Linked DNA regions of Homo sapiens: regions 2 and 3 are each linked to region 1. The links come from fine-mapping of genetic effects on gene expression. A gene starts in region 1. Each other region holds a variant in brackets. All regions are shown on one strand. Distances are from middle to middle. Region 1 holds the start of ATP13A4 (ATPase 13A4). Region 2 has its middle 11 kb from the start of OPA1. Region 3 overlaps ATP13A4 (ATPase 13A4).

The links.
Region 2: its variant is fine-mapped to the expression of ATP13A4 in whole blood (TOPMed, PIP above 0.99).
Region 3: its variant is fine-mapped to the expression of ATP13A4 in whole blood (TOPMed, PIP above 0.99).

Annotation. Positions count from the first base shown.
Region 1 is chr3:193,551,158-193,559,348 of GRCh38, reverse strand. It overlaps ATP13A4 (ATPase 13A4), which reads left to right and starts at 4,454. Exons shown (of 30, transcript NM_032279.4): 1 at 4,454-4,609. The coding sequence starts at 4,550. ATP13A4-AS1 (ATP13A4 antisense RNA 1) reads right to left here and starts at 6,136. Exons shown (of 2, transcript NR_121666.1): 1 at 6,062-6,136; 2 at 3,765-4,579.
Region 2 is chr3:193,577,846-193,586,036 of GRCh38, reverse strand. It overlaps a transcript of ATP13A4 not described here and the pseudogene EEF1A1P23. Among named protein-coding and RNA genes, the nearest start is that of OPA1, 11 kb to the left of the region's middle. The variant AAGTG/G (reference allele first, on the strand shown) is at 4,333.
Region 3 is chr3:193,430,558-193,438,748 of GRCh38, reverse strand. It overlaps ATP13A4 (ATPase 13A4), which reads left to right. Exons shown (of 30, transcript NM_032279.4): 23 at 165-274; 24 at 3,005-3,101; 25 at 4,832-4,904. Among named protein-coding and RNA genes, the nearest start is that of ATP13A5, 56 kb to the right of the region's middle. The variant C/A (reference allele first, on the strand shown) is at 4,130.

The DNA.
Region 1 (8,191 bases):
CCAGTGATGACAAGGCAGAGATATTGCACTTGTTTCAGGTTCCTCTCCATGGTAAAGACACATGACCTTGAACAGCTCTTTGTGACCTCTTTATGACTCAGTTCCTACAGCTTTCAAATGGGAGCAATGATACTACTCACCTCCCTACTTCACAGAGATGTTGCAAAAAACAATATTTGTAATATGCTGTGAGTTCTCAGATGAAAGATGGAAATTAACATATAATGAAACATTATTACCATTTATCATCACAAAACCTAAATGGGCCAGACAAGTGAAGCATCAGCATCCCCACGGCCCTGGCAGAGAAACCGGTCCTGCCATTATTTCCATTGGACATCTATTCTAGACAATCACAGAGGTTGAGAACTGCTCAGAACAACAGGCATGCTCCTAAGATAATCAAAAGCAAACCGAGATGCCAGATCAGCAGAGGTAGCTAAGTATTTGTCCTTTTTATTTTCCGTTCCCATTCTTATTTGGGAGAGAGTATTTGAGAAAAAATGAGTTCAGGGAGAGAATCAGAGAATGAACGAAGGTACTTTTCCTTTTGGACATTCCTCTCAATTCTGAGATATCAATATATGTGTATAATTTGTAGCCCCCAGAATGGGCTGTGTGCGAGCCCTCATCTGTGCTTTTGCTCTCTGTCTCCTTTGTTAATAATGCTTTCCTTTCCCACCTGTATTTATCTAGACAAGCATAAAACTCCTATCCTTGTGAGGGTTTCCTGGCCTAACTCCCTACTTGAAGTTCCTCTGTCACTCTTGTGTAATTAGCATATTATGTGGAATTTATATTTTGGTGTTGGTCTTGTTTCTTAATGGACTTAACTTTTCTGGGGCATAATTTATTAAATCTCTATTCTTCATCTATTACAGATCTGGGCATACTGAAGTTAATCAAACTAGTGCTAAGTGAATGAGTGAATGGAATCCTTCAGGAAAATGTCAAGATTAGAATTCAGACCACACCAAATCCTCATCTGCCATTCTTACTACGCCACATCACAACCCGTGAGGCACGTAGAGTATAGAATAGAAATATTGAACAGGCACAATTAAGGAAAGGGAGGGTGAATTCAAGAATAACTTTTCAAACAATGTTCCTAAGAGAAATAGAAGACTTAACTTAGAAGGTTCAAGAAAACTGTCTACATAAATACAGTATTGCATAGAAGGACTGAGTCGCTTTGGACCTGATTCCTATAATATGAGAGCACAGGCTGATCAGGAACAGTAGGGATATTTATGGAGTTCAGTTTGCCTTCCATGTTATTGTCACTCTGTGCACTAAGCTCAGACTCAGACCTGGCATTCAGGACCTCCATGCATGGCGTTGGTCCATATTTCCCTGCCACATGTCACTCCCCTCTTCTTCCTTCATGCAGCCCATGCTGCAGTGAGGCTGATGGGCTTGCTCTGAACATGACCATGTGTTTCTTCCTCTGATGATTCCCTTGCTTCAAATGCTCTTTCCTGCGGCCTTACTCTTTGTCCGAGCCTCAGCATCTCCACCTGTTGAAGCATTTTTGGCTCTTTCCAAGGCCTTTCTCAAAATGCTTCCTTCACAAAGAGGCTTTTCTGGTCATATAAATGCAAACCTCTTTGCAGAGCACTTTGGATGTGCCAAATAAATGTGTAGAAGAGGTATTAGTCCAGTAACTAGGATCACGGATTGGGAGAGCTGCATTGCCTAGGTCCGAATACTCATTCTGTCACTTACTAATGGTTTGAATGTAGGCAAATTACTTAATGTCTGCACCTGTGTTTCCTTGTCTGTCAAATAAGAATGACCAGAATAGTATCAACCACAGAGGCTTTTGTCAGGATTGTGTGCAACAGTGAGTGTAAACTGTTTAGAATTGTGCCTCATATGTGGAAGTGTTCTGTAAATGTTCTCTTTGCTTTCCCACACAACCTAGCCCTGTTTCTGGTTATGGTTATGTTTGTAGACCAAAATCACTAAATGAGGGTGAGTGCTGTCCATAAGCAGTGTTGCCATCGATAAAATCTAGATGTTTTACCAATAGAACTCCCAAGGAACCTGAGGAAACTCTCTCACTACTGGAGTCCTCAGCTCTATTGAACCAGGTTTGTGGAAAATAATTTTCCATGGACATCTGATTTTTATAAAAGCTTTTAATGTTCTTAAGGACTTACATATTTTCCTGTTCAAGTTTAGCTTAAATATTGTAGCAGCATGACCTGATTTATTTGATGGGGTAAGTTTGTGTACAGTTTCTCCTCTAGCTGTTAATCAGTTACACACTCATCTCAATCCCACAACGGTGCAAGAGTTGCCAAGTGCATTCAGGAACCCAGCCAAAAGGAAACTGCAAATATTGCCAGTGATAAACAGGAGAATGAATTACTTCTTTCTCACCTGCCCAGGAGCACTGATATAGTTTCACCACGTCACATACTAACACTCCTCAACCTCCATCAGTTGAGATGAAATTTGGAATATGCTTGTTTTATATTTTTTTCTGTACTAAATATATAATTACTGCCTAGTAAGGCTGTTAAATGTTCAGTTAGGTTTTTTTGAGGTATAATTTTTTATTGAGGTATGATTTTTAAATTTGTTATATCTCTTCATTGAGATATAATTCACATTTCATAAAATTCACCCTTTTAAAGTATAGAGTTCAGTGAGGTTTAGTATGTTCACAAATTTTTGAAGCCATCAGTAGTTCTAGAACATTTTTATTACCCCCCCCATAAACCCTTTACTCCTTATATTTTGACCTTGTGATAAAATGTTAATTTTATTTTCATTTATTTGGTTAAATTGTGCTAGCAAATTTTTGAAACCAAGAGAACTACATATATATATACACACACACACACACATACACACACACGTACATATATATTTTGTAATTACTATTACAATGGGTTTACTTAGCTTACTTTTTATGTTTATCCTATACTTCACTATTTGCTCAAGGTTTTACACATACAACATATACACACACACACATGCACACATTGATCTTGGTCACATTAGGGTTATTTGGGTCAGGTTGGAGATATCATTGCCAATGTAGCTTGAGGGACAGACAGTGGACATGGTGAAGGTAAAAATAACTATCTTTTGTGGAACACCTATTATTTCCCAGGCACTCTTTCTTAAAAGTCTGTTTTAGGACGTAGGTTCTATTATCATCATCTTTATGTTACATGTGAGGAAATAGAGGAGAATGGAGTTTGTATAACTTGTTATATCCCAAGGTAGCACAACGACCACCTAGTACAGTCCAAATTTGAACTCAGGCCTTCCAAATTTAGTGTATATGCCCTTAGCCACTATGTCCTAACACCTACTGTTCAAATGCACATTTAGTTTAATAATCCTAACAGCACTTGATCAGTGCTGTACAATGTACTTTCACAATGATCTCATTCCATTCTCTCAAAAGTCCTGTCGGGCGGTACCAGATGAGAAGAGCCGGTTCCTATAGTTAAATGATCACACAGCAAGGCCAGTGCAGACAAGCAGCTGGAATACAGGTATTTTGCCAGAGCTAGGGTAGGGGTGTGTTTCTCTACACCACATTGGGACTTCTGACAGTTTTCTTAGACTTCTGTTCCATCTCTTATAATAACAATCCACTTTCTATCATATTTGTTTGGATGTTTGAATCCTTACATCAACACGAGGGTAGCAAATATGACTTAACTTTTTTAGGTAGTCCCTGTGCTCAGGCACTGTTTATTGAATAAATGTGTAAACAAATTAAAAAAGAGTCTGGCCATATAGTCATTTGAATATTTTATTTCTAGACTTCCTTAAGTGTTGAACCATCAATATTTTAGTGAAAGGAGACTACATAGACTAGTTTGATGATACCTTTGTTCTTTTTCTACATGTGTTTCAAAAAAGTAAACTTAATTTCACATACACTTTAAATAGAATTTTTTTTGCATATACAAGGAAATGTGATTACAAATACCTTTTGAAGAGGATTAGTGATAATCTGTACCTTTTGTAAGCAAAATGAATGAGAGTACTATTAGAAACCTGTGGATTGAAGCTTTCATTCATCAAAGAAAATCTGCAGCTCTGTGCGCTTCCGCTCAACCCAATTCCTTAGGTCCTCTGAATAAAGCAGTGACCTGGGAGTTCTTGCACCCGCTCCTCACTCCTGAGAAGGGTCCTGCCAACTCTGTATTGTCCTGTTGGATTTGCAGTCAGAAGTCTGAGGCTGGCAGGCACTGGGCAGGCAATGAGTTCTTTCCCTGTAAGTTGGGCACAAAAAGATCGGCATGGGAGCAGCCTCCTTTGAGACAGCTGCTCTGAGAGAATGCAATAAGCAGGGAGCAGCCAGCAATTCCTCCTAGCAGAGGGCGACTCGTGGGAGGAGTTCAGTTTGCCAAGTATTGTCATTTGTTGAGAGAAGGTGTGTGCTCAAGGAGGAGTTTTAACCTGGAGGATCATTAACTCTTTTAGTCAGCTGAGGAGCTGCGGTGGCTCGGCGAGTTGGAGTTCATCCTGGAAGCGTCTGCACGACAAGGTCAGGGAGGAGGTGTGGAATAACTTTTTCATGGGACACTTTGAGAAGGGCCAGCACGCTCTGCTCAATGAAGGAGAAGAGAATGAGATGGTAAGATTCTAGCCACATTCCCTTCTTCCCATCCCACTTCTCAGCCTGCGAGACACACACACACACACACACACACACACACACACGCACGCATCACACACACACAGACTTTTCTAAAATTTCACTCTGGTATTACACGAGAAAAGGTCATGTTTGAGAAATCTCTCTATCCTGTAAATATAACCTCTGACAGCAGAAATTTGCTAGAATGAAAATATTGTATTCATCTTGTCAAGAATGTTTTCTTTTTAAAGAAAACAGAGAGGGAGAGAAGCACCATGCACTTTATGATTCTTGTTTGAGCCTCATTGGTATAGCCAGTTCTGTTCAAAACACCTAACAATTTTAGGAAATCCCTAATGTGAGGAGCAGTGTATTCCCTGATAGGAAGAAGCAGAAGTTCAGCAGTGAAGCAGAAGTGCAGCTGGGTCTTTGACCTTCTCTTCTCAAATGTCTTGTTCACCGAGTCTGTTGGACAGGGAAGACATGCAATATTAACAATTATCAGCCTACACACATTTCTGTTTTCTTCTAGAATTTTACTTTTGTGGCTTCCTCATTATAGAGATTGGTTACAGAAAACTTTCGGTAGTTCAGTATCTCTTTGATTTTAGATGTGCTTCTATCTTGAGAACTATAGGAAAATCAAAGATGACTTTCATGCTCAGGATGAATTTAAAACTGTATTTCTCAATTACAATATAATCAAGAGAGAGTTAGAAATATGTACTTCTGTTTAATAAGATCTTTCTGCTAATTGTGTAAGCATAGTCTTTTATGCCAGTAATGATGTAATTAAAATGTTAAAATGTGACGCTCTCATTCCATAATAGCATTTAATCTTCCTGGAATTAATATGTAAATAACAAACCTGAAAGATATTTACTTAAAATGTTTTCTTGGTTAATTGCTTTAGCCCTGACTATTACATTCTTTGTTCCTAAACTGGTCTTTCAAGTCTAATCTGCTTACCTGTTCCTATAGCAACAACATTTTTTGGACTTTCAAGAGTAGATCCCTTCTGCTATCAAAGCTGAAAAAATTATAAAGAAGTAAAATGTACATTAATTCAGGTGCCTTTCTTAACCATATCCTTTACTTCATTCAGATTTGACTGCCAAATGAATTGCCTTCAGCCCCTCCACAAATGTCACCAGAAATGGCTTGCTAGCCCACATTGGATATCATCTTTGTTTCTTTAAAGAGTTTTCTTTAGGAAGTGAATATCTCATTACTCTCGATATTAAGTTGAAAAGTTTATCTTCATCTTGAATACTCTTCACCAGAAGGCAGGGGCTCCTTCCTCTGAAACATTTTTTTTCTCTCTCATTTAGAAATACACTCACTCTTTTCCAGTAAACCCCTTTCTGCTCTCAGACAATTTGTCTTTCAAGTCTCAATAAGAATCATTTATTTTCCAGAAGACATTCATGGTTGTAGGGAAACTGTTACCTCTTCCCTAGCATACATATTCCACCAAAGCAATTTAGTTAACAGTTCATCTTCATAATGGCACCATCAGATGCATGGAGAACTCCACGTAGTTTTGTATGCAGCTGAAAGCCCAGTTAGGAGAGGCCCTTTAATATGGAAAGGGACACTGTGTTTTCTGGTAGGCAGCCATTTGGCCAGTAGTCTCAGCAGAGGTGCAGCAATTAGTATGCACTCCTGAGCTCTCCATCCTCTTCTGCCTACAGAAACCTGGCCACCTGCCTGTTGCTGTGTCTGACACTGTGTTCCTTTTTAACTCACTCCTCCATCCCTTGCCCAGAGCAGTAAACTTTAAAAATTATCAAGCTATATATATAGTCTACATATTTTGTAGTGATTTTTAGTATACACAGCATTTTCTTGGCCACTAGCTAATTTAGTTTTCCTCACAACCCTATGAGGTAGATGCTGTGATTCTAACTTTAAAGATGAGGAAATTGATGCACACAGGCTTTCCCTAAGGTTGCATCAACCAGTAAGTCCAGGAGCTGAGGCACCGCACAGGTTAGTTTAAGTTGACAGCTCTTTTGTCTCTGGACCTGAACATAGCCCACTGATACCTTTTCCAGTTCTTCCGGAGAACATTCCACTCTTAACAGAACACATTCCCTTCCTTCATAAAACAAAGCTAAGGAGAACATCAACATCCAGTCTTCTTAGATTCCCCAGCATCTGTTCTGTTATAGATAATTTGAGTTTCTTTTTTCTTCTAGATAATTCGAGTAGCTTAAATAAGTCTGTCTTCTCTGACTTCCAAGTCCAGAAATGTGTCACACCAAAGTGTTTAGTTTCATGCTTTATAATATACTTTACTTGAACCTTTGCAAACGTAATTTCTCTTGTGGTAGAAATTACTTCAAATTTCAAGAGAAAACAACATGCTAGGGTTTAGACCTCATGTCAAATAAAGAAGAATATTCTGAGGCCTAAAGATGCCTGGGATTATCTTCCATTTTGGAGTTAAAAAACCAAAAACAGGCTGGGCATGGTGGCTCGTGCCTGTAATCCCAGCACTTTGGGAGGCCGAGGCGGGCGGATCACCAAGTCAAGAGATTGAGACCATCCTGGCCAACATGGTGAAACCCCATCTCTACTAAAAACACAAAAATTAGCTAGGCAGGGTGGCGTGCACCTGTAGTCCCAGCTACTTGGGAGGCTGAGGCAGGAGTATGGCGTGAACCTGGGAGGCAGAGGTTGCAGTGAGCCAAGATCGCGCCATGGCACTCCAGCCTGGCAACAGAGCAAGACTCTGTCTCAAAAATAAGTAAATAGATAAAAATAAATAAATAAACAAGTAACAAACCAAAAGCAAACAGGAACTAAAGAGCAACCCTAGGTGACCTGAAAATAATATCTTTAACTGCGAAATGAGACAGGACCCAAAGGTAGAAAGAAGCTTTTGGAGGGAGAAGGAAGGAAAGGTGAGAAAGTGGCCTTCAGCGAAGGTTCACCTAAATGACTGCCTCAGAAAGGCTTCGAGGAGGAAACTCTGGGAGAGCACTGGGACGGGACGGGAGGCCTGGCTCTCACCGGCCTTGGGCCAGCCGCTTGCCTGCTCTAGCCTCAGTTTTTATACCTGTAAAATAGGACTGGTCCTTCTTACCCCCACCAGACTCACAGAGTTCTCATGAAGATCAGTGGAGATAATCCATATAAACATGTTTTGAGAAGTAAACAGTTCTGGCGAGGTGTGAGCTGCTATCATCTAAATAAAGGTAGGAAAAGCCAAGGGCTTAGCAATTAACCAATTGAGTAAATACTATCCCACAAAAATGAGGTCATCTCTTGCCATTCAGTTATACCAAAAGGAATATGTACTTTTTTTTTTTCTTTTTGTTACACGGAGTCTTGCTCTGTTGCCAGGCTGGAGTGCAGTGGCGTGATCTCGGCTCACTGCAACCTCTGCCTCCTGGGTTCAAGTGTTTCTCCTGCTTCAGCCTCCCGAGTACCTGGGACTACAGCTGCATGCCACCATGCCTGGCTAATTTTTTGTATTTTTAGAAGAGATGGTGTTTCACCGTGTTGGCCAGGATGGTCTTAATCTCTTGACCTTGTGATCCACCTGCCTCAGCCTCCCAAAGTGCTGGGATT
Region 2 (8,191 bases), 27 kb before region 1:
GAACACAAAGTGCTCAATGTTATTAGTCATCGGAGAAATGAAAATTTTGTCGAGGATGTGGAGCAACCAGAACTGTCAATAACCGATGGCAGGAATGTAAAATGGCACGACCACTTTGGAAAAATATTTGGCATTTTCTTATAAAGTTAAATATACACTTCCCCTTTGGTCTAACCATTCCACTCTCAGGGATTTATCTAGGAGAAGTAAAAACGTGTTCATGGAAAGTCTTGTACAAACATGTTCATAGCGACTTTTTCACGGTAATTGAAAACTGGAGCCAAATGAAACGTGCAGCAGTGAGAAAATGAAAGGAAATTTACACAATGAAATACTCCTCAACAACAAACAGAATGACCTGCGGATACATGTAACAACACGAATGAATCTAACAGACGCGCTGAACTCAAAAAAGAATGTACCATATAAACATTTAGAACAGGGGTGTCCAATTTTTTGGCTTCCCTGGGCCACATTGGAAGAAGAATTGTCTTGGGCCACACATAAAATAAACTAACAATAGCTGATGAGCTACAAAAAAAAAATTGCAAAAAACCCACAAACAAACCTGATGTTTTTTGTTTTGTTGTTGTTGTTGTTGTTGTTATTTTCTTTTGAGACAGAGCTTTGCTCTTGTTGCCCAGGCTGGAGTGCAATGACGCGATCTCAGCTCACTGCAGCCTCTGCCCCCTGGGTTCAAGTGATTCTCCTGCCTTGGCCTTCTGAGTAGCTGGGATTATAGGTGCCTGCCACCACACCCAGCTAATTTTTTTGTATTTTTAGTAGGGATGACGTTTCACCATGTTGGTCAGTCTGGTCTTAAACTCCTGATCTCAAGTGAGCCACGAACCTTTGCCTCCCAAAGTGCTGGGATTACAGGGGTGAGCCACCGTGCCTGGTCAAAACTGATAATGTTTTAAGAAACAGTAACAAAGTTTGCGAATTTATGTTCAGCTGCATTCAAAGCCATCCTGGGCCGCATGCAGCCTGCAGGCTGCAGGATGGACAAGCTTGATTTAGAGCATCCATTTATATGATGCTCTAGACCAGGAAAAATAGATATGGAGAGTGGGGAGGAACATTGGGGAACTTTCTAGAAACATGGGAACATTCCATATCATGATAGAAGTCTCAGTTACATGAACACATCCATTTGTCAAAATGTATAGCGAAGATTTGTTCATTTAAAATTGTAGATTTGCATGTGTACATTTTACATTAAAAAGCTATGAAGAATGATTACATGAGGAGGATGGGAAGTGGGTAGAGGTTAGATGAAGCAAGAATCACAAAATGTTAATAACCATGGAAGCTGCCCAGTAGGTATATGAGAGTTCATTATACTTTTCTGTTCACTTTGCATGTATTGAAAGTTTACATTAAACATTTTAAAATGTATCTTTTTTTGTTAAAAAAAAAAATAGAAGAAAAGTGAAATGGACCCAACAGAAGGCAGCCTCATTAGTATAGAGATGAGGAGCAGAAAATGAGCATAACAGGCAAAGAGCCTTGTGTGCTGTGTAGAATTGATTTCAGCTGGTATTCGTTTCCTATTGCTGCTGTAACAAATTACCCCAAATTAGTGGCTTAAAACAGAACAAATTTATTATCTTATAGTTCTGAAGGTCAGAAATAAGAAATGGGTCTCTAGGGAAGAATCCTTTTTTATTTTTCCTTCTCCAGTTTTGAGAGGCCACCCACATTTCTTTGCTTGTGTCTCATTTCCATCTTCAAAGCCAGCAGTGACTGGTCAAACCTTTCCAACACCACATCACTCCAATGCTAATCCTTCCACCTCCGCTTTCCACATGTAAGCATCCGTGTGATTTGATCAGCCTACCTAGATAATCGAGGATAATCTTCCTATTCTAGGGTCAACTGGTCAGCAAACTTAATTACCCTTTGCCACATGCACAGCTTCTGATTAGGATTCAGACTTCTTTGTGGGAAGCGTTATTCTGTGTACTACGCAGCTCCAGTGAAATTATTTTAATGATTTCTTTCTGATATGGAGTGTGTGAGTGTGATGGGTTGGGGAAAGGGGAGGAAAGAATCAGTTTATCCAGCCACACCTGAAACTAGCTGTAGTTTTCAAATTGTACTTCTAATCTTTGTTTAGAAATCTTCTATATTTATCATTTTTTAAAAGAACAATTTTTATACCTTTTCTGCAATCTACTGCATGTCACAAATTTCATTTTGTTTTGCAGTGACACTTTTGCCTTTTCCTGCTTTTTAAGTAGTTTTAAGGATTTACTCTTGAATTATAAAATTTGAAATATTTCCTTTACTTATTTTTATTGCTTTCTGTGCTTGTATCTTAGAGGTCAAGCTTCTTTCATTGTATTGAAATGCCAACTTATTGTCTGATTTTTTTTCTTGTCCCTGTAATAAATTCAAAGATACAATCTTCCTTTGGATCTTTCTACTGTAACAACTATTATGATTACATGCATAGTAAATACTGATTTAGTGTACCAGGTACTAGGCTACATCTCTGCATATGAGATCTCCTTCTATTATTTGATACAATATTTTTTACAGCTATCATCTTGTTTTTTCTTGTCATCTTACTATTTATTTATTTATTTTATTTTATTTTTGTTTTTCGAGATGGAGTCTGTCTCCCAGGCTGGAGTGCAGTGGCATGATCTCGGCTCACTGCAACCTCCGCCTCCTGGGTTCAAGCAATCCTCCTGCCTCAGCCTGCTGAGTACCTGGGATTACAGGCGCCCGCCACCAATCCCAGCTAATTTTTGTATTTTTAGTAGAGACGGGGTTTCGCCACGTTGGCCAGGCTGGTCTCAAACTCCTGATCTCAGGTGATCTGCCTGCCTTGGCCTCCCAAAGTGCTGGGATTACAGGCTTGAGCCACTGCACCCAGCCCCTTCTTTATTTTTATGTAGTAAAGTACGTATTGACCATAACTATGCCCTTCAATTCTGCTCCACAGTGATTATTCCTTTATGATACTGGCTAGAGGGTTTTCATTGTTATACATATATATTTTTTATATCTATATAATATACATATATATATTTTATATATATGTAATATACATATATATATTTTATATATATGTAATATACATATATATTTTATATATGTAATATACATATATATTTTATATATGTAATATACATATATATTTTATATATGTAATATACATATATATTTTATATATGTAATATACATATATATTTTATATATGTAATATACATATATATTTTATATATGTAATATACATATATATTTTATATATGTAATATACATATATATTTTATATATGTATTATACATATATATTTTATATATGTAATATACATATATATTATATATGTTATACACATATATAATATATATGTAATATACATATATAATGTATGTAATATACATATATAATGTATGTAATATACATATATAATATACATGTAATATACATATATAATATATGTAATATATATTATATGTATTATATATAATACATATAATATATGTAATAATATATAATGTACATATATTATTAATGTATACTTATAAGTATATACATGTATATATTATATGTACATGCATATATTAAAGTATACATATGGCCAGGTGCGGTGGCTCACGCCTGTAGTCCCAACACTTTGGGAGGCTGAGGCGGACGGATCACAAGGTCAGGAGATGGAGAACATCTTCGCCAACGTGGTAAAACCCCATCTCTACTAAAAATAAAAAAATTAGCTGGGCGTAGTGGTGTGCGCCTGTAATCCCAGCTACTCTGGAGGCTGAGGCAGGAGAATCATTTGAACCCTGGAGGGGGAGGTTGCAGTGAGCTGAGATCATGCCATTGCACTCCAGCCTGGGCCACAAGAGGAAAACTCCGCCAAAAAAAAAAAAAAAAAAGAAAAGAAAAGTATACATATGTAAGTATATATGTGTATATTATATATATATATATATATATATATGGAAGTCTTTTCAGGTATTTTAGTAATTAATTAGAAAATCTGCACCAGGGACTGCTAATCTAATATGTTATTGACTGAGAACATGTGACCCCATTGTCAGCATTCACACTGAAGCCTTGCTTCAGCTGTACCAACTGCTGAAGTGAGATGCATTCTCGGTTTATGTTATGTTTTCCAGACTTCTCTTTTCTGTCCTCATCGAAAAGACAGCCAGCTTTTGTAACCTTGCCTTGGGGATGTTAGCAGGAGAAATGTTGGCAATTCAAGGCTCTTCTGGTTTTATAAGAAAACCAGATTTTGCTGGGAGGCCTGGAGTAGAAGAGAGGGTCTTGGAGAAGCAAACATGGGAGGAGAGACATTCCCAGAGATCAGGAAGAGGT[AAGTG/G]TTTTCCCTTAAGTGTCCCTTCCTAACACTCTCTTGAGAGGTCTCAGGCGCCTCAATAATTCCTGCCACCTAAACAGAATCAGATTCATCAGATTCAAAGGGATTAGGAATGCTAGGAATTTGGGGGACTTCAGAGATTACCTGTGACTACTAAGCATAAGGAATTATTTTCTAGGCACGTGGTTATCACGTCCATTGCATTTGTATGGTGGAAACGCTATACATATAATGAGGTGCTATTGCGCCTCTCTTTCTAACTCTGCGTTCAGTGACATGTTGCTGGTATAGCTTGAAACTAGTCATGGTGGCAGTATTTCCACCATAGAAATCAGCACGCACTACAAATCAGGGCTTGATTTGTTTTTCGTTGATTGTCTAATCTTAAGAAAGTGATGGAAAAAAATAACACTACAGATTAAATTTTAAAGTGTGTTCTGTCTGTGGTTTTACATTGTGAATAACATACATAATTGAGACAATATTCTTTCAGTATTTGAACACTATTATCTAATTCAGTAAAGAAGTCTTGCACATCATCATTAATTTAAATTTTCCTAATGTACATCTTCATTGTTTTACTTTTCTCTTACTCACTAATGTATCGGAAAATACAACCCATATTCATGTCAGAGCTAAACTCATAGGTTAACGATGTGAGCAACTTCTTTGTTGAAATAGATAGGATTGATAGTAATGAAGCATTTATTCATAGTAAAATGTATAAGAAACTTATGCATATGAACACATCATTTTTGGAAGAGCCAGTTGTTAAACGATTACCCATACACCATTGTTTGAGCAGCACAACACTGCTTTTCTTCACTCTATTTCAACCTTCCCATCATTAAAAGCTTTTGCAATTTAGTTTTTTCTTTCTGTTTTGAAGTTTCTATGCCTCTTACAATTTATAATCTTTTAAGCCAATGTCATGTTCAAAACCGTACCTTTCCTTTCCTCCCCGCTCACCGGTTCTGAGGTTTTTCTCCCCCTACTCGCAGGTATTTTTTGCTCCACACTCTGGTTCATTTCCTCTTTGCTTCTGTTTTAGACTAAAAACATAATCCCTACCTTCATTCTATTCTGTAACTTGGCCTGTACAATAAAAAAATATATATACTAGGCTTTGAGTAATTCTGCATGGTGATTCTTCTTAGTAGTACGTATACTAGCTTGCTAGCACCCTCCTCTGTAAGAGTGAGTTGAATTGTGTGCCTTGCAGAAGGACCAGCTCCCACATCTTTGCTGCTCTTTGTCACAAGCTGTTGACAGTCTCCTTTCTCTCTCATACTTTGTATGGTCCTAAGAATCCTTGGTGGTAGGAAGGGCCAAGATAAACCAAGTTGAGGCTATATCCTGCTACAACTGCTATAATCCTGGTCCAACTCACAAACACCACCAGGACAATGGGACTTACTGTCTCCCAGTTTGGAGGCCCACCTAAACAGCAGTGGTGCTTGCATTTAGAGAAGACAAAATTAATCCACTTTCAGTAGTCAATTTACCAGGCTATATCAGCAGGAGAGGTTGTAGGAATCCACAGCTCTCAAGAAGCTCTTAATAAATAGATTGGATTCACATATTTATATAAAATAAACACACACGCTAGAACTTCTTCCTTTTTACTTTAACATATCCAGTTTACCACTTTGTTCCTTAACTGAAATAAAATTTAGGGTGAGATTTAGACAAGCAGAAAGAATGGGGAAGAAATACTGGAAGGATATGTGTGGTAGATTTGAGGTTCAATGCCATTTTAGGCATGTCCTTCTGTATCATTCTATTACCATGATGTTATGATATTTGCTAATATGTGTATCTCATTATAAAATTAGTTAACGTATGGGCACTTAGAGTAGTGCTTGGCACATAGTGTGCATTCAGTGATTCTATCAGTTGAGATAGAATGGGATATGCTGCTTGAGCAGGAGACGCAAGACCCAGGTTGTTCCCAGCTACACCATCTGAAACGTGGCTTCCAAGGTCACTTTGGAGAGCACGGATTGTCTGACATGATTTGTAAGGGCTGGCATAGAAATGACTTACTTCATTTCTCCCCACATCCTGTAGGCCAGAACCTAGTCATATGGCCAATTTAACCATAAGTAAAACTGGGAACAATAGTGGAAAACACAGAGTGATGTTTAGACTGCCTAACTCTGCCACCAAAAACACTACCTATAGTAAGAATAGGAATATATATATATATATTACAATACATATATATTCCCATTGCAGCAGGTTTGCTTCCAGAACACAGGTGTCATGAAAACCACCCCTAAAAGCCAAAATGGGAAAGAAAAAGACTCATATCAACATTGTCACCATTGGACACGTAGATTCGAGCAGGTCCACCACTACTGGCCATCCAATCTACACACGTGGTGGCATCAAGAAAGAACCACTGAAAAATTTGAGAAGGAGGCTGCTGAGATGGGAAAGAGTGTCTTCAACTATTCCTGGGTATTGGATAAACTGAATGCTGAGTGTGAATGTGATATTACTCACCATTGATACCTCTGTTTGGAAATTTGAGACCAGCAAGTGACTATCGCTGTTGCCTTAGGCCACAGAGACTTTATCAAAAACGTGATTACAGGGACATATCAGGTGGGCTGTGTTGTCCTGATTATTGCTGCTGGTGTTGGCAACTTTGAAGCTGGTATCTCCAAAACCGGACAGACCTGTGATCATGCCCTTCTGCCTTACACACAGGGTGTGAAAAAACTAATTGTTGGAGTTGACAAAATGGATTCCACTGAGCCATCCTACAGTCAGAAGAGATAGGAGGAAATAATTAAGGAAATCAGCATGTACATTAAGAAAACTGGCTACAACCCAGCCACAATAGTATTTGTGTCAGTTTCTGGTTGGAATGGGGAGAATGTGGAGTTCTAATGTCCAAGCATAGGAGAAGATGGGTGTCCAGCTCCTGGGAGGAGAAAGAGGGAGAGGAAGAAAGAGAGAGAGACAGACAGACAGACAGACAGAGGGTATGTTCCTTTCCTCTCCCTTTTTGTTCTGTCCAGGAACTCAGTGACTGGATGGTGCATGCCCACACTGGGTGAGGGCAAATCTCCCTTACTCAGTTACTGCTTCAAAAACCCGTCTCTTTCAGAAACATCCTCATGGATATACCCAGAAGTGATGCTTTACCAACTGTCATGGTGTCTCTTAATCCAGTCAAGTTGACACACAAAATGAATCACCACACTCTCTATAATGGGAGAATGACCTAATTTTATTTTTCATACTGAGAGAACCACCAAAATGGCAGCAGTTGCTTCCCAGAAACCAACTAAGTGAAGGTGTAGAGTTAAAATTAAGTCTATTTAAATAAATGCAATAGATAGATAGATAGATATAGATATAGATATAGATATAGATATAGATATAGATATAGATATTTCTGAGATGGAGTCTCACTCTGTTGCACAGGCTAGAGTGCAATGGTGTGATCTTGGCTCACTGCAACCTCCGTCTCCTCGGTTCAAGTAATGCTCCTGCCTCAGCCTCCCGAGTAGTTGGGATTACAGCACACACCATCATACCTGGCTACTTTTTGTATTTTTAGTAGATACAGGGTTTCACCATGTTGGCCAGGCTGGTCTTGAACTCCTGACCTCAAGTGATCCACCCGCCTCAGCCTCCCAAGTGCTGGGATTATAAGAGTGAGCCACCGCACCTAGCCCAAGAAATGCAATATTTATTATGCACTTGAGTTTGCAGTCTGAAAGTTGAGAATTTACTCCATTAAAACATATTCTCTATTCAGAGAGAATGAAAGAGATTGAAGTGTTTTTAATTTTCAGAACTGTTTCATGGAAGTGTTAATAAAGCCTCACTGTTTGAAAGCAC
Region 3 (8,191 bases), 120 kb after region 1:
CCTAATGCCATCTTTTTCTCATGTTCCAGGCAGGGTTAAGTCTCTTGGTTAGAGTTTGGGCACACAAACCACCTTGTGGCCAGCTTAACTGGCCTTTTCTTATGAGGCTTTAGTAGAGACGTACGTGAGTCTATGTGAGGAGTAAGCTGATTCTTTGCTTTCAGGCTCTGAAAATGGCTCATGTGGGCATCTCATTATCAGAGCAGGAGGCATCTGTGGCCTCACCTTTCACTTCCAAAACTCCAAACATTGAGTGCGTACCTCACCTTATCAAGTAAGTAGGCACTTCCTCAAACATTGTTTTCTCTCTCTTGACTTCTGGTGCAAATCACATTGTTCTGCCTGGGAAAGACTAGAGAAACTTTCTGTCCCTGGGTGCGGAGGGTGTTTTGTGGAAGAATGCAGTCAAGCATTCTACTTCCAAATGGATTTTCCAGAAGTTAACAATAACATTGGGAGAGCAGTGGCATTTCCAGTGAATTCACTGATTAGGTTATTTTTAGAAGATTGGAATCTGGAACTTGTTATTGCTTTGAAAGTGTCAATCATCCCCATTTTTCAAATGTAACTATCTCCTTTTCAATTTTTATTTGAAAAATAAAGTTTTCAAAATCTTTGGCCGGGCGCAGTGGCTCACGCCTGTAATCCCAGCACTTTGGGAGGCCGAGGTGGGCAGATCACGAGGTCAGGAGATTGAGACCATCCTGGCTAACATGGTGAAACGCCGTTTCTACTAAAAATACCAAAAAATTAGCTGGGCGTGGTAGCAGGCTCCTGCAGTCCCAGCTACTTGGGAGGCTGAGGCAGGAGAATGGTGTGAACCTGGGAGGTGGAGATTGCAGTGAGCCAAGATTGTGCCACTGCACTCCAGCCTGGGCAACAGAGCAAGTCTCTGTCTCAAAAAAAAAAAAAAAAAAAAAAAATCTTTATTGGCTTTTGCTGCTCTCACTAAAATTTGCTTTGATGTCCCCCACCACCCTGCCGAAAATGTACTTCTGCTCCATTATATTTGAATGATAGAGATAGTGAGCATGGTGGCTGCTCTTGGTTATTGTAACTGACATGTGTTTCTAGTTTAAAAATGCTATAATGCCTACTATCTCACACTTCAAAACAGCCTGGAGATGCAGGAATGGCTATTTTTTTAACAAACAAAACAATTGAAGTTCAGAAAATTTAATTGATGTGCCCAAGCTCATACAACCATATGAGGTTAGAGATTGTCTTAGAATTAATTTTATTCAAATGTATTTTATCTACAGATATACTATTTCCACCACATAAAAATAATAATTTGGCTAGGTCCTCCCAATTTTTTATTTATTCATGCATTTGACAAATCTTTAGTGAGTAGGCATTTAGTGCCAGAAACTAAGGGAGATAAGGATGATACCTACTGATTTTGATAGGTGCTGTCCAGGAAATAAAAAGGGTAAAAGGGAATAAGATGGCTATATAGGTGGAAGCAGCTGCTTCAGATGGGGTGGTATGGGAAAACCTCTCTAAGGAGAACCTCTCCTTATTGCTTAGAGAACCTCTCTAAGCAATAAGGAGAAACTACCTCTGGGCAGAGGAAATGTCACGGCAAAACTCTGATACAGAAAAAAACCTGGTTTGAGGATCAGGTTTTTTTTTTTTTTTTTTTGAGACGGAGTCTCACTCTGTCGCCCAGGCTGGAGTGCAGTGGCGGGATCTCGGCTCACTGCAAGCTCCGCCTCCCGGGTTCACGCCATTCTCCTGCCTCAGCCTCCCAAGTAGCTGGGACTACAGGCGCCCGCCACCACGCCCGGCTAATTTTTTGCATTTTTAGTAGAGACGGGGTTTCGCCGTTTTAGCCGGGATGGTCTCGATCTCCTGACCTCGTGATCCGCCCGCCTCGGCCTCCCAAAGTGCTGGGATTACAGGCGTGAGCCACCGCGCCCGGCCCCGGGGATCAGGTTTTAACACCCTAGGACATCATAGTGGGCATGAGTTTAAACTTAAAGAAGTATGATCTAGGCTGGGTGTGGTGGCTCATGGCTGTAATCCCAACACTTTGGGAGGCCGAGGTGGGTGGATCACTTGAGGTCAGGAGTTCGAGACCAGCTTGGCCAACGTGATGAAACCCAGTCTCTATTAAAAATACAAAAAAAAATTAGCTAGACCTGGTGGAGCATGCCTGTTGTCCCAGCTACTCAGGAGGCTGAGGCGGGCGAATCACTTGAACCTGGTAGGCAGAGGTTGCAGTGAGCTGACATCATGCCACTGCACTCCAGCCTGGGTGACTAAGCAAGATTCTGACAAAAAAAAAAGTATAATTTAAATTTAAAAAGTGTAACTTAAACTTTATTTTTCACCGAATGAAATAGAAGATAAAAGTGACATTTCATGTGTCATCTATTTCATGCTTTAAATGTGTACTATTTATTCAAATCAATCAACAATAACACAAATGAAAATGCTCATCATTTCCAGCCTATTTCAATTTGATATATGACTAATTTGAGTGTGTATTGTTTTGGTCCAGTTTTAGAAAAAGTTGGGACTGCCAAAATGAAATTTGAATCAAATGCTTGCCAAGCTCCTGAAGCTCCTGTATGAAAATAACCCCTGAATCTGGAATTTTATTTAAATCCATTAGTTCACAGATGAAGAAACTGAGACAAGGGAAATGATCTTCTGCATCTCATTAGTGAATAGGTAGAAGATCTGGCACTAGCTCCACTGATCTGAGTTCAGGAGCTAAAACAATGCCTGCTGAAAGGACAAGAGCAACTGTAAATCTGGACTCCATCACCAGATCAAGGCCCTTGGACCTTGGCCTGGAATTGGCCTTTCTTGAAAATTGGGTTGTGTAGTTTACTGACAGCCAGCATCCATGAGCTCAGGGCTGTCCATTTTCAGACAGACAGTCGTATAATGACTTTTGATTTTTTTTCTCCTGAGCTTAGCTGAACAGCACAGAATGACTGACCTTATGTCTTTTCATTACTTTCATGTCTTTATCATTTCTTTTCTTACACAGGGAAGGACGTGCAGCTCTCGTTACCTCCTTTTGCATGTTTAAGTACATGGCTCTGTACAGCATGATTCAGTATGTTGGTGTTCTGCTGCTCTACTGGGTATGACTTGGGACTTAGCCTCTTGGTTAGTGTGAACTAAAACAAGTAGCGGTGCACTCTCAATTTACAATGCCTCTCAAAGAAAGAGTACAAATAGGATATCTGAACAACAACAGCCCCTCCAAAAATATCCTTAAGAATTTGTAAAGTAAATCACAAATAGACAGATTTGTACAGGAAAAGTTGCTGATGTCAATTCTCTGATGTAGAAACCTTTTATCTAGTAATAGCTGAAATCACCACTGAATATATTGCTGCTACTTTTACCTGATTGGACAAGGTCTTTATCTTCTTAATTGCAACGTGGCTCTACCCTAGTCTACCACTCACTAAAGAAATGGTTCTCTGCATTGGGGTGTTGCTAAATGCTTCATTTAGCATGAAAAAAAAGACCTGATTATTAATGTTTGCCCATTTCAGTGGCGTAAATACTCCTACCATAACCAGTTGCAAGCTGTCTGCCTATTGTCACTGAACATGAAGTGGGGAAAGATGTATAGTAGCATATGATTCTATAATACTTGCCCCATATAGATACAAGAGTCGTAAATAACCTTAAGGGCAGAGATAGCAGTAAAATGTAGAAAAATATTTAGAAATAGCTGAGCTTTGAGTATTTATTAACTTTGGTTTTAGTATAATTTATTTAATGGTACACTTGTATAATTTAAGTTTTTGTATTGGCTTTGTTTAACAACCAGCTCACAACATCTCTGAAAATTTAGCAATTGACTTTTAAGTGTTAGTATAAGCCAGCATGCCACTGGTTCCCTGAATATAGGGATGTGAAAACTGGCATATCATACCACAAAAATACATAGGTCTTGTGATCACTTTTTTTTATTTACCAAGATATAAAAAGAGAAAAAAACATGCACATCATCTGTGAACTCAACATGTGAGATTACCGTATTAACCAACACCAAGGAAAGAAAGTTCGTCTGGATATCTGTGTGGCAGATATCCAGATTCATCTTTATATACTGCCTTCTTTTTCCTGGGTTAAAGATTTTAGTTCTATTGCTCTC[C/A]GATAAACTATATCTTTTCCTACTCACTGATAAATGGGCTAGAGAAGGATAGGCTATTTCTGGAAATTGGCCTCTATTTTAGAATTCCCAAATTATACTCAAAAGTAGAATTAAACATTGAACATTATCTCCTTTCCACTAAGGGGTGGGGAGCAAGAAAGTGAGTGAGTTTCTTAAAATCAGTAAGACATAGCACTTTTTCCTCTAGACTATTAAGATGTTTTGCTAGGATTTTCTAAAATTTTGTCTAAAAACATTCAAGAATGCAAATAGTGAGTTTACTTATTCTTATTTTCCATCAGTAAAACTTATGTAAGGTTACCACACATTTGTCACTTGGGGATGTATTTTTTTATTGTGTGAAATGAAATCCTAAATTTTCTGTTAACAAGTAGAAAAGAGAGCAGAGATGAATCTGGTAGGGGAAGATGTCCTCCTCAACAAAGTAATAAGGATGCACAAACAATCCCACCCTGAAAGCACATGATGATAGGCCCCCTGCATAGAGAGGGTTTCACAGGTTTGGCTTTGATTACTTCCACCAACACCATCACTCACCAACTCAACCAGGCCCCGAACACAGCATCTCCACAGTAATTTACTTGAAAAACCCTATGTCACAGTGAGAAAATAAATGTAATCAATATCTAATTTCATCCAGAAGGTCACAACTTTTTTGATCTGCTTTCTTTTTATTTTCAGGAGACAAACAGCCTTTCAAATTACCAGTTTCTGTTCCAGGATCTGGCCATTACAACTCTTATTGGTGTAACAAGTAAGACATTTTAAAACTTTCTTACCAGAGGTGCTACCCTCAGCTGCCCTCCCTCTGCCTTGGAAAGATTTGTCTACCATGAGGAACAGCAGCTGCAACAGCAGCAATGATCTGGAATTTATTCCCAAATATATACACAGAGAGGAAATAGAATCCTCATTTTTAAGTATTGCAAGAAAGTATTAGCAAAAGAAAAGCTTGCTCGTTATTTTGCTGTTTTCTGCAAAATGTGGAACTTCTATAAATGGTCACTAAACACTTAAAATGAAAAAAGCAGCTTGAAAATCAGGAACACTAACTTCAGAGTGCTTTTAGATACAGTTATAGTTAAAATGTACCCAATTTATAGGAGCCAAATGGCTTTTATATTTCTCATACCTAAATCTTAGCCTCTCAGGATTTAGAATGAAGCTTAAAGGTAATCTTGCCATTATACCTCTCTTACCCTCCACCTTCTAATGAATAAATTGTCTCCCTAATGTTCCTGCAATGGAAAATTTTTTTATTTTTGACTTTATTCTTTTTTAGGGCTGTCTTAGGTTCACAACAAAAATGAGAGGAAGGTACAGAGATTTCCCATGTACTTCCTTCCCAAACACATACATAGCCTCTGCTACTATCAGCGTTCCTCACAAAGTGGTATATTTGTTGTAACTGATGAAATTCTATTGATGAATGATTGAAGTTTTGACATGTCTTTGTTGTTTTGCTTTTGTCTTACTAGCTCAGCTAAAGGAAAATCTCAACCAACATTCATGTTGAAACTAATTCAGTCATCAATTGCAATCATAGGTTGATTATGGACACAAGAGTTTGGCAAAACTCAATGAAAGCATTTCGTGAGAAACAATTAATAATAACATCATTATTATCCAAAGTCCATCGTTTACATTACAGTTCATTCCTGGTCTTGCACATTTTATGGGTTTGAACATATGTATAATGACATGTATCCATCATTATATTATCACACAGAATATTTTCACTGCCCTAAAAATCCTCTGCTCTGCCTAGTCATCTTCCCCACTTCCCCAAAGCTCCTGGCAACCACTGTGATCTTTTACCGTCTCAGTAGTTTTGGCCTTTCTTTTCTTTTCTTTTCTTTTATTATTATACTTTAAGTTCTAGGGTACATGTGCACAACATGCAGGTTTGTTTGGCTTTTCTAGAATGTTATATAGTTGGAATCATATATAGGCTTTTCAGATGGGCTTTTCTTCACTTAGTAATATGCATTTAAGGTTCAACTATGTCTTTTCATAGTTTGATAGTTCATTTCTTTTTAGTGCTGAATAATACTCCATTGTCTGTATGTACCACAGTTGATTTATTCATTCACCTACCGAAGGATATCTTAGTTGCTTCCAAGTTTGGGCAACTGTAAATAAAGCTGCTATAAACATCCGTGTGCAGATTTTTGAGTGGAAATAAGTTTTCATTTTCACTGGGTAAAGGATTATGTAGTAAGAATAAGTTTTGTTTTGTAAGAAACCTCTAAACTGTCTTTCCAAACAGCTATACTAGTTTGCATTTCTACTACCAATGATTTAGAGTCCTTGTTGCTTCACATACTCACCAGCATTTAGTATTGTTAGTGTTCTGGATTTTGGCCATTCTAATAGGTTTGTAGTGGTTCCATTTATGCTTTTACTCCTACTTCCTCCAACCTTCTCAAGGATTTTATTCGTCTAATAATCTATTTCTCCATTATTATCAACCTTTCTCTTGTTTACTAGATCATTCCCAATGATGGCATATAATACATTCTCATATCTTCTTTCTTTTAAAAATTCTTATTTGACCCTGAATCTACCACCAGCTACTGCCTCCTTTATTCTTAAACTTCCCAAACAGTTATGTATACCCACTTTCTCCATTCTCATCCCTAATTCTACTACCATTCCATTTCCATTAGCCAGATTCTAACATCCAGGGGCATGAATTTGAATTTTGGGCTTATGCAGTTGTTCAGTAGGAGGCAGTGGTATACTTGCAAATGTTTAACATGTTGCTCCCCAAAACAGTTTGAATATACATATATATTTACTTGTTTTCATATATATAATGGAAACATATATATATATGGGAAACATATATATGTGTGTATATATAAATATATATAGAAACATATATATGTGTGTATATATAAATGTATATATACCCACATATACACATACACACCCATATATATTTGGAAGCATATTTATATATAGTAAACACACACACACACACACACACACATGCATATATAGAAACAAGTAACTTTACTGAAAAGAAATGTGTAGTGAGCAATTTGCAAATATACTTGTTCTCTAACTTTTGGAGTATTTCAAGTCTTGTTCTTGGATCCGCTGTCTTTTCAGCCTATACCATCTCCATAAGTAATCTCAACCAGCCCCATGACTTTAATATTATCTATCTGCTGATGAATCCCAAATTTATATCTCCAGCCTTGATGTCCATCCAAAGCTCTGGAAATGTAGCTACTCTGCATCTAACCATGGGTATTTAATAGGAATTAAACTTCACATTCTCAAACAGAACTCTTAATTCCCCCAGATCTGATATTCAATATAATCATTATGTACTTACTGAGTCCCTAGTTTGTGCTACTTACTGATCTAGGAACTTAGAATAATACATCAGTGAAACAAAACAAGATTTCTTTCCTTATGGAGCTTACATTCTACTGGAATTGCACTGTTATCTACCTAGTTGTTCAAGTCAAATAACTAGAGTCATCCTTTATTTTTCTTGTTTCTTCACCCATCACATCCTATACATTTGAAATTTCTGTTAGCACTGCCTCCAAAACGTACTGTGATTCCCCCCCTCCATTTTCAATGTAGCCGCCATCATTAGTCACTAAGCAATGCCAGCTCCCTTGTGCATTACTGTAACAACTTTATAGCTGATCTTGCTTCCACTGTTGCTGCCCTCTCCTCATTCCCATTTACACAATAGTAAGAGTATTGTTTTTAAATATAAATTTTATTATTCATTCTCTTGCTTAAAATGCTCCAATGCTTCCCATTTTGACTCAATTCAAGTCTTATATGATTGGGCTCCTGACTACTTCACCAACTTCACCTCTACCCACATTGCCACTCACTGATGTGACTGCTGTACTGGTCTTACTGTCTCTAGTACATTGTCAAGCTGTGGTCAACTCAAGTACCCTTGCATTGGCTATTCCTTTTGCCTAAAATACTCTCCCCTTGGATCTTTATATGTCTTTGACTTTTTTCATTATTCATATTTGAGCTCAAATGTCACTTCTTCAGAAA